Linked DNA regions of Homo sapiens: region 1 is reported to be linked to region 2. Evidence: microRNA targets listed by miRTarBase, many of them from high-throughput screens and not tested one by one. Region 2 holds a microRNA gene; the other region holds the end of a gene's coding sequence.

Region 1 (4,384 bases), not on the chromosome of region 2:
TGCAAATATCCACTTGGCTATTTAGAGAACAAAGCAGTGCCTACTGGAAAGATTTTTTTTAAGTATTAATAAGTGAATGCATTCTATTATTTTAAAAATTTGTGATGTCTTTATCCCTTTGTCAGCTCCATACTTTGCCCCATACACTCCCATACCTGTAATCAGGACCTCCTTTTTGTTCTAGCCCATGAATTCCTAACTGCACTCCTTTCCTGCCATGTGCTTGTGAGAGAAAAAAAAGCAGGCATAAACCTAATGCTAATAGAACGGTGGCCATGTGGTTTTTCCTTGTTTTCTTGTCCTTCCCTCCCCCTTATAAATCTCCAAAGGCCACCTTCCCATCCTAACTTTGGAAGGGTTTTCCCTCCAGGCTTGTCTCCCTGACTCTATAGGTAATTACAGCCACCTGGTGGCCATATGGGGAAATGACAGATGGATTGGCCCCCAAAAATCTGGTGAGACCCTCTTTTTTTTTTTTAACTTTTTTTTTTTTTTTTTTAGATGGAGTTTCGTTCTTGTTGCCCAGGCTGGAGTGCAATGGCACTATCTCAGCTCAATGCAACCTCCATCTCCCGGGTTCAAGCGATTCTCCTGCCTCAGCCTCCCAAGTAGCTGGGATTATAGGTGTGTGCCACCACGCCCGGCTAATTTTTTGGATTTTTAGTAGAAACAGGCTTTTGCCAGGTTGGCCAGGCTGGTCTTGAACTCCTGACCTCAGGTGATCCCCATGCCTCGGCCTCCCAAAGTTCTGGGATTACAGGCGTGAGTCACTGCACCTGGCCAGAGACCCTCTATGGAATAACTTTTGGTTTTGGATATTGGGGAAGCAAGGAAAGTGAATCCTATGGATAGAGACTATAGCACAGGAACCAGACATCCTATTTCTTGGTCCTTCCTTGCCTACTAGGACACAACATCCCCCCCACTAGGTATAGACGGATGAGTTCACTTAACATTGGAGTTCATTCAAAATTTATTGAGCTGCAACTGTGTGCTCAGCAATGAGAATATAGCAGTGAGCAAGATGTGAACAAGATCTCTGCCCTCGTGAGCTTACAATCTAGCAGCGCAGCCAGCCTATTACAGCCATAATTTTACAATTGTAATAAAAACTCTGGAAAATGCATGGTGCTAACTGATTTATCAGAAAGTCTTGACCCACCAAGAAATCAGAAAAGACCTCCCTGAGGAAGGAACATTTAGGATCAGCTAGGTGGAAAGTGAAAGGAAGAGTGTTGCAGGCAGAGAGGACAGTGTGTGAGGGTCTGAGGCAAGACATGTAATGAACTGAAAGCCAGTGTGTCTAGGCCATAGAGAACAAAGAGGGGTGTTGCGAGATGAGCCTGATTTATACAAGATCTTTGAATTTAGGACTTTATTCCAAAAGCAGTTGGAAGCCACTGAAGAAGCTAAGGAAAGTTCGATGTTTAGGTTTGTTTTTCATAGCTGACTCTCATTGCAGCATGGAAGTCAGAAGTGGAAATGGGAGAACAGGTTAGGAAGTTTCCGTAGCAGTTTAGACAAGAGGTGATGGTAACTTGGAGAAAAGAAGATAGGTTCCAGAGATATTTAGGAGACAGATTACACTTGATGAGTGACTGGATGTGTGAGGAAAGGGATGTGTTTCTAGCAAGAGACATTGAAGTAGGAGTCTCTGGAAGAGGGACAGGTTTTGGCAGAATGGGGACATCCTGTAGGCACAGGACAGGCCCTGAGGCTTGCACTAGAGGAACAGCATAGCTTTCATTCTCAAATAGTTCAGGGTTTAATTGAGCAAACAAGGTACACATAATTGCAGAGTTGATTAAAGATCAAAATGATCGATTTAGATAATTCATGGACTCCTGCATTCCATGGGGTTAGATTTAAACCCTCCATCTCACAGTAAATTCAGATACTGCCGAAGCCAACAGCAATGTTTCCACCTTTGTTCATGCCTCCCAAAGCCCCTCAGAAAATGCCTATATAGCCCACCAGTATCTCACAGGGGCCACCTTCTCCTGTGCTGGGCCCTGGTGTCCCCTGCCAGAAGACACACTAAACTCTTCCTGATTTGTTTTTTGCTTGCTGCTGCCAGGAAGTTCAACTGTCTGTCATTCTCAAATCTCCCCTCCTTAAGTTAAAGGAGACCAAATCTAGCCATTACCCCCAATAGTGGTTCTCTTTTGGTCACCAGGAGAGTTTTCTGACTTAGTTAGCATCTCTGTTTACATTACCCCTGTCGAGCTCCCTCTTTTGGAGTCACCGTCTTGCAACCCTGTCTTCCTCATCTTCTCCAAGTGGCAAACTGCCTCCTTTTTCTCCCTCGCCAAAGTGTCACTAATTTGCCGGCCTTTTCCCCACTCTAGTTTTCCTTCAAGTTAGTAAATACCCACCTCTTTGCCCCAAAAGGTCAGGAGAGAAATCTGGGGTATGGGATTAACAAAGAAGTAGCCCCAATAGCTATTGCTTAACTGACACTTAGCCTTCCTTGCCTCCTCTTCGCCACAGGAGAACTCTGCAAACTCCCTTCCAGAGACAATAACTGCAAACTATACAATAGGACCACAATTTCCTATTGTGCAGGGATCCTAGGACAAAGCCACATCCCAAATACTTGCTGAGAGCAGTGGCTACAAATGTTAACATGAGATTAGACATTGAGATGGTCCCTTTATATTGAGAGAACATGGACTTTGGAGTTGGGCAGACTTGAATTTGCATTCTGGCTCTAGTGGTTACTACCTAGTGTGGCTTTGAGCTATTAAACTTTCCAAAGTTTCGAAGGACTTATCTGTAACATAGTAATGGTAATCCACCTTATGGGGTAGTTGTCTTGAAGAGGCTATTTGGGAGGCTGAGGCAAGAGGATCACTTGAGGCCAGGAGGTTGAAACCAGCCTGGGCAACACAGCGAGACCCTGTGTCTACAAAAAATTAAAAAATTAGGCATTGTGGCGTGCACCTGAAGTCCCAGCTACTCAAGGCAGAGATGGGAGGATCACTTGTGCCCAGGAGCTCCAGGCTGCAGTGAGCCATGATTTTGCCACTGCACTCCAGACTGGGTGACAGAGCAAGACCCCTTCTCTTTGTTGGGGGCAAAAAAAAAAAAGAGGGTATATGAAGTACCTAGTATAATATCTAGCCTGAATTGCCTATAATGACGCACTTCCTTTCTTTCCCTTGGGTTTCAGCTGCCAAACACTCTTCTACAAGTAAGATAAGCCAGCTTTGTATGGTCAATGATAAACATTTCCTATTTCTTTGTAAATCCCATCTTCCTGCAGACATCTCATTTCCATCATTGCCAAAAAAGTCCTTCCATCCCTCACCCCTGTAGAACTACTCTCTCTTAACTATCAAACAGTTCTGCCTGAACTCTGACTATCCTCTTCTACATCTCCCTAAACCAAGGTACTTGATCTTCTTGTATCATTCCCAAAGATTAATTCACTAATTTTCTCAGAGCAAACTGTAATGAAGGCAGGGAATAGGGCCTTTACACTTCAGAAGGGCACAGGCTAGCTCCTGGAGAGGAGTGGAGATCTGGGTCCAGGCACCCCTCGGCCCCACCACTTTTCCTCAAGGCACAGAAAAAGCCAAACTCGAAATACGTCTTGAGTCTACACGAGTGTACATCTCCTTGCCTACAACTCCGTGAGATCATCATTGAAGTACAGAAGTATTGCAGGTGTGTGAAGTGTACCGTCCATACTGAGATAGTCAAATTCTTCCTCCTCATCCCGGATCCCATTCTCTTCCAGGGTAAAATCCATGTTCAGGTTCTTCCCTTCATATTTCCACGTGTAGCTGGCAGCATGTGAGTTATAGGGGAGATAGCGGTGTAGGATTTCCCATATGGACTCCAGAACCCCCACCTGGAGAACACAGAAGCACCCCACCCCCAGAATTCTGGATGGAGTATACATATACACACGCTGGGATCAAAGTGCCTCCCTTGGCAGATAGCAGCTTCAGGTACTCTACGGCCCCGGGAAAAAAAAGCTGAAACTCCAGCATGCAATGAGCAGACCCTAAAGTCCTACAGATCTTAATGGCAGCCACTTCTAACTACCGGATGGCCATAAAGGGTCAACTGTCCCCTCACTATATCCATGCAACAGAGTAGATTAAAAAGAAAGTCCAATTGCTGTCCAAAACGGCGTGTAAGAGCTTCGAAGGACCACCATCACTAAGATACATGAACTGCTGTTCCCAGGCTTATAAAGGAGTCTCTTGTCCCCCTGTGACCCAGACACTCCTAGAATTCCCAACCCTGGGGACCTAGGTGCTGTGCTTTCCTCAGTTGCCTCAATGTAAAGGACAGAAAATACACTCCCACCGGTTATGGAAAAAATGTTGCCCTGAAGATCGGCCTGGAGATTTGCTGGGATTCCCCATTCCTT
Region 2 (4,384 bases):
TCCCAAAGTGATGGGATTACAGGCGTGAGCCACTGCGCCCAGCCTAATTTTGTATATTTAGTAGAGATGGGGTTTCTCCATGTTGGTCAGGCTGGTCTCAAACTCCCGAACTTAGGTGATCCACCTGCCTCGGCCTCCCAAAGTGCTGGGATTACAGGCATGAGCCACTGCGCCTGGCCAGAGATTTTTTAAATGACAGTTGTCTCTGCCTCAGGGGCTCCCAGTCTAATGGACACTTCTGCCACAGGGAGAACATTTTGATTTAGGCCGGGTGCGGTGGCTCATGCCTGTAATCCCAGCACTTTGGGAGGCCCAGAAGGGCAGATCATGAGGTCAGGAGTTCGAGACTAGCCTGGCCAACATAGTGAATCCCCGTTTCTACTAAAAATACAAAAATTACTGGGTGTGGTAGCACCTGTAGTCCCAGCTATTCGGGAGGCCGAGGCAGGAGAATCGCTTAAACCCGGGAGGCGGAGTTTGCAGTGAGCCAAGATCGTGCCACTGCACTCCAGCCTGGGCGACAGAGCAAGACTCCATCTAAAAAAAAAAAAATTTGATTTAACAAGCTGTTCTGGAGGAATATTCAATGCTGTGAAGCCCAGAGAAGGCTTCCATTGGGAGGGAGCCAGTGAGCAGAGCCCTGAGTTCAGTCTCCCCGCAGCAAGAGCAGGAGACAGCTGCATGGGGGTCTCCAGCCAGTGGGTACAGAATCTGTACAGGACTGAGGGGTGGCCACCTCCAGCCATGGCCCCTGGTGCCTAGAGGAAGGGAGGATGGATCTAAGTCAGATGACCCTAGGATCAAGGAACCCCAAGGGATCAGGACTAGGAAGCCAAGGAGCATGTGTCATTGCCCCTGTTCCTCCCACGGGTGCCAGGGCTTCTCTCCCCAGGGTAGGGGTAAAGCAGTTTCCCAATGCGCCCAGCTAGGGATGAGGGGAACTCCCAAAAGCCCATCTGGAAACCTAGTCCTCCTCTAAAGAAGATTTGAATGACTGTGACTGGGCACGTAGAAACCTTTTGCACCGTGTCAGGTCTTGATGGTAGAGGTGGTCATCCAAGCATGCCTGGGGTCAGGCTCCTTGGAAGTTCAGCTCCAACCCTGTATTCCAGCTGGGACGGTTGGAATGTTAGACACCTCAGTCCCTCCTGCAGGTTCAGGGCACACCTCTCTGTAAGAGAACAAACTGGCATGGTTGGTAGACATCATTTGCAGGCTTTGTATCCCAAGTCCACCCATCCATCTCACATAGTACCACTCCAGCTGAGTCCACTCAACTGATCAGTCAACTGGTCAGTCCATAGTACCACTCCAGCTGACGTCCTGGGGTGAAGGCTGCCTCCTGAAAGGCCTGCCTTACCCCCTTACCCAACTGCCACCCAGAAGAACATTCTCTCCAGAGCCTGGCCCTGTTCAAGCTTCCAGCAAGGACTGGGCCCAAGCCAGGCCTAGAATGATCTTCCATGCAAAAGACTGGGCGTGTATTTCCCCTAAGACCCTGACCAGGCCTGGAGTTCCAGTCTTACCCCAGGGACCCAATGTGGAAAGACCTTCAAACAAGAGCTTTTCAGAAGCTGGGGAGGTCTGCTCCTGCACCTGTCCAGCCATGACAGGATGGAGAGTTTAGGGATGATTCTCCAGCTCTGCACCCACCTGATCCTCTGATGGAGGGTCCAGTCCAGCTTCACATCTGTGCCTAATCAGTGGAAACACTTACCCTCTGGGCACCTCAACCTTCTCAACTGGAAAGTGGAGTGAGGCAGCAAGCTCCCTTTCCCCCTCCCAGGGTAGCAGGCTGGACCTGACCGATGCCCTTTCATCATTGCACTGCTTCCCAGCGGCCTATAGTAGTGCAACAGGGAAAGAGTGTCGGGCAGGCCTGCCAGTGCCTCCCCCAGGGTGGTCTGCAGGGATCTGAGACCTGGAATGCAGGCTGGCTGGGGCGGGGCCTCTGCCCGGGGGGAAAGGGTGCCCTCTGACCCCAGAGGCCCAGGCCTGTCTAGAATCTCAAGTTTCCATGGAGAAGGGAGCGAATTGGGTAGGGGGGAGGGGAGGGCCTGCAAGCCCAAGGGGCCCTGCCTGGGGAGTGGGAGGTGAGGGTTATAGGGAGGGAGATCCCCAAGGCTGGTCCCAGATGCTTTGACAATATCATTGCACTGCTTCTCAGAGCACAGTAGTGCAACCTCGTCAGAGCACCTGCGGCCAGCAGGGGGGACCCCACCACCCCCAATACACGCAGGGCGGGAAGCTCAACCATGGATGGGTGGGTGGGGCAGAGCCCCCGTCCAGTCCATCCGGGCAGGGAAGGAGACCGCAGCGGGGTGCGTCCCTGGGGTCTTCAGAACCCAGGACACCCAGGCCTTTCCCAGAACGCTCCGGATTGAGGTGGAGGAGAAACCCCAGACTAGGGGGTTGTTCCAATCCCGGAGCAGGAGCTGACGGGCCACGCAGGGGAGGGGGCGCACACACAAAGACGAACCCGCACTCAGCCGCAGTCCAAAGCCGGCTAGCGCCCGGAGCGGGGTGGGTACAGCCCGACGACCCTGCGCCCTGACTCGGCCCGCGGCTCCAGGAGAAAAAGGGCGGCCCCACCCCGGGACGACGCGCCCCTTCTAGCTGACGACTCCATCCCTGGCCCCTTGCCCTGCACTAGATACACTCTGGATTCTTTTCTAACATATTCTTCTGCCTGGAGGCCCAGAGTGGAGCAGAGGATGGGGGCTCCCCGCCCTTCTAGAGTTCCCTGCTCCAAAGAGGGCCCCCGGGATCCCGGCCGCGCCCCTCCGCCTGACCCGCCGAGTAGGGCCGCCCAGCCCAGCCCAGGATCCCCTCCTCAGACACAGCTGACTCACGCAGACATCCCTTCCGCCCAGGGCCCGGTCAGGACGCGGAGGGTTAGACGGAAGAGGATCCCGGCCATCGTCTGCCCCCGGGTCCCCGTCCAGACGACCCTGCACCTCGTGGCGGCCCCTCGCCTGCCGGCTCCATCTTTAACCCGCTGACAGTCGGAGGGGCCGGGCCCCCGACTCCTTAGCATAGCGCTGCGCTCATTGGCCGGCGCTGGCGCGGGGATTCGCCTCCTGCATGCCTGTTGGCTGAGACGGGAGAGATTTCAAAATAGCCTCCGGGTTCCGATTGGCCCGGCGCCGGCCGAGTCTCGGGCTCCGTGGTTTTAACAATGAGTTCTACAAACACTTTTTCCCCATTCATAACTTATCAAAAGGAACTTTGCCCGCCTTTTCTCAGCTCCAATCTCTGCGAGTTTTCTAGCGACACCGACAAGAGCGCTTGGAAGCCCGGTGAGGGGCGCCAGGCGCGAGCCCACAGTGGGGGAGGCCGAGACCCTGTGGAAATTCCCGAACCCCCGCCAAGCCTGCTGTGAACGCGGCCGCGGGCTGCTTTGTTATGCATGCTGAGGTTGCTCTCTGCGCCTCCTGGATGGGATATTTGGACGTGGTGGGCTTACAAACTGGGGTAGCCCCCCTCCCAACTCAACCACCCCGGATCGCCCGGCAGGACGCGAGTGAGGCTTTCCTGAAAACCCCCGGGTATGGCTGGGCTATGGAGACCGGGTCCTGGGCCCCGTGGTCTTTTGGATCTGTGGGAGATATGGGGAACGGAAGTGTAAGCTTTGGTTTCTTCGTGATTGTGATCCACTTTGCGGAGAAGCATTCATTAAGCGCCTACCCTTCGCTGATGACTAGGAAGTATATTGATCACCGGGCTGTTGAACGGCTCCTAGAGGGAAGGGAGGAGCTGTGCTTAGACAACTGTGCCCCTGCAACCCCTCCTGCTTTATTATCGGTCCAATGGCTGAGAGCAAATGTTTTTGAGGCAGGCAGAGGTGGTTTTGAATCTTTATGAACCCCTGTTGCCTTCTTGCAAAATTGAGATGGCAATCAAACCTGCCCCATAGGGCTGGCTGTTGCCAGCAGCAAATGAGATGCTGTGTAAATTGTTGGCCCAGCACCTGGCATTTAGTAAGTGTTCACTGAAAGTGAGTTCTGCTGCCACTACAGTTTTTATTTTTGGCCTTGTCCTGCATTCTGCCTGGAACAATCTTATCTGCTCCCACAGCATGGGCTTTGGTTGCCCAGGGATTCCCACTTGTGCACTGTTGGGTTCCTCTTGGTCAACACTCCTCACCTCACTGCTTACCTATGTGTGGTAACGGAGGTGGGGGAATAGACAGAGAGGGAGGAGTGGGCTTTGACAGCCCATAGGAGCTGGGGCTGGACCAGAGGAGTGCCCCCTTGGATTTGCAGGGTGATATGGTTTGGCTCTGTGTCCCCAGCCTAATCTCATCTAGAATTGTAATCCCCAAGTGTCAAGGGAGGGACCTGGTGGGAGGTGATTGGATCATGGGGGCACTTTCCCCCATGCT

The links. The annotated mature microRNA hsa-miR-301b-3p reads CAGUGCAAUGAUAUUGUCAAAGC and lies in region 2 at 2,137-2,159, opposite strand. An mRNA with a match to its seed (bases 2 to 7 or 8) in the 3' UTR can be bound and repressed. Matches are read on the target gene's strand: a 7mer-m8 pairs with bases 2 to 8, a 7mer-A1 pairs with bases 2 to 7 and ends in A, and an 8mer does both.
Region 1: the mRNA of CYB5D1 is a reported target of hsa-miR-301b-3p. The part of its 3' UTR that is shown has no 7-base or 8-base seed match.

What each region holds. Positions count from the first base shown.
Region 1 is chr17:7,858,854-7,863,237 of GRCh38, reverse strand. CYB5D1 (cytochrome b5 domain containing 1) reads right to left here. Exons shown (of 4, transcript NM_144607.6): 4 at 956-3,856. The coding sequence ends at 3,626. It also overlaps a transcript of NAA38 not described here. Among named protein-coding and RNA genes, the nearest start is that of CYB5D1, 3.0 kb to the right of the region's middle. RefSeq lists an enhancer at 4,258-4,384.
Region 2 is chr22:21,650,800-21,655,183 of GRCh38, reverse strand. MIR301B (microRNA 301b) reads right to left here and starts at 2,203; the gene lies at 2,126-2,203. MIR130B (microRNA 130b) reads right to left here and starts at 1,880; the gene lies at 1,799-1,880. It also overlaps the pseudogene LOC107985532. RefSeq lists enhancers at 2,490-2,539, 2,076-2,747, 2,748-3,418.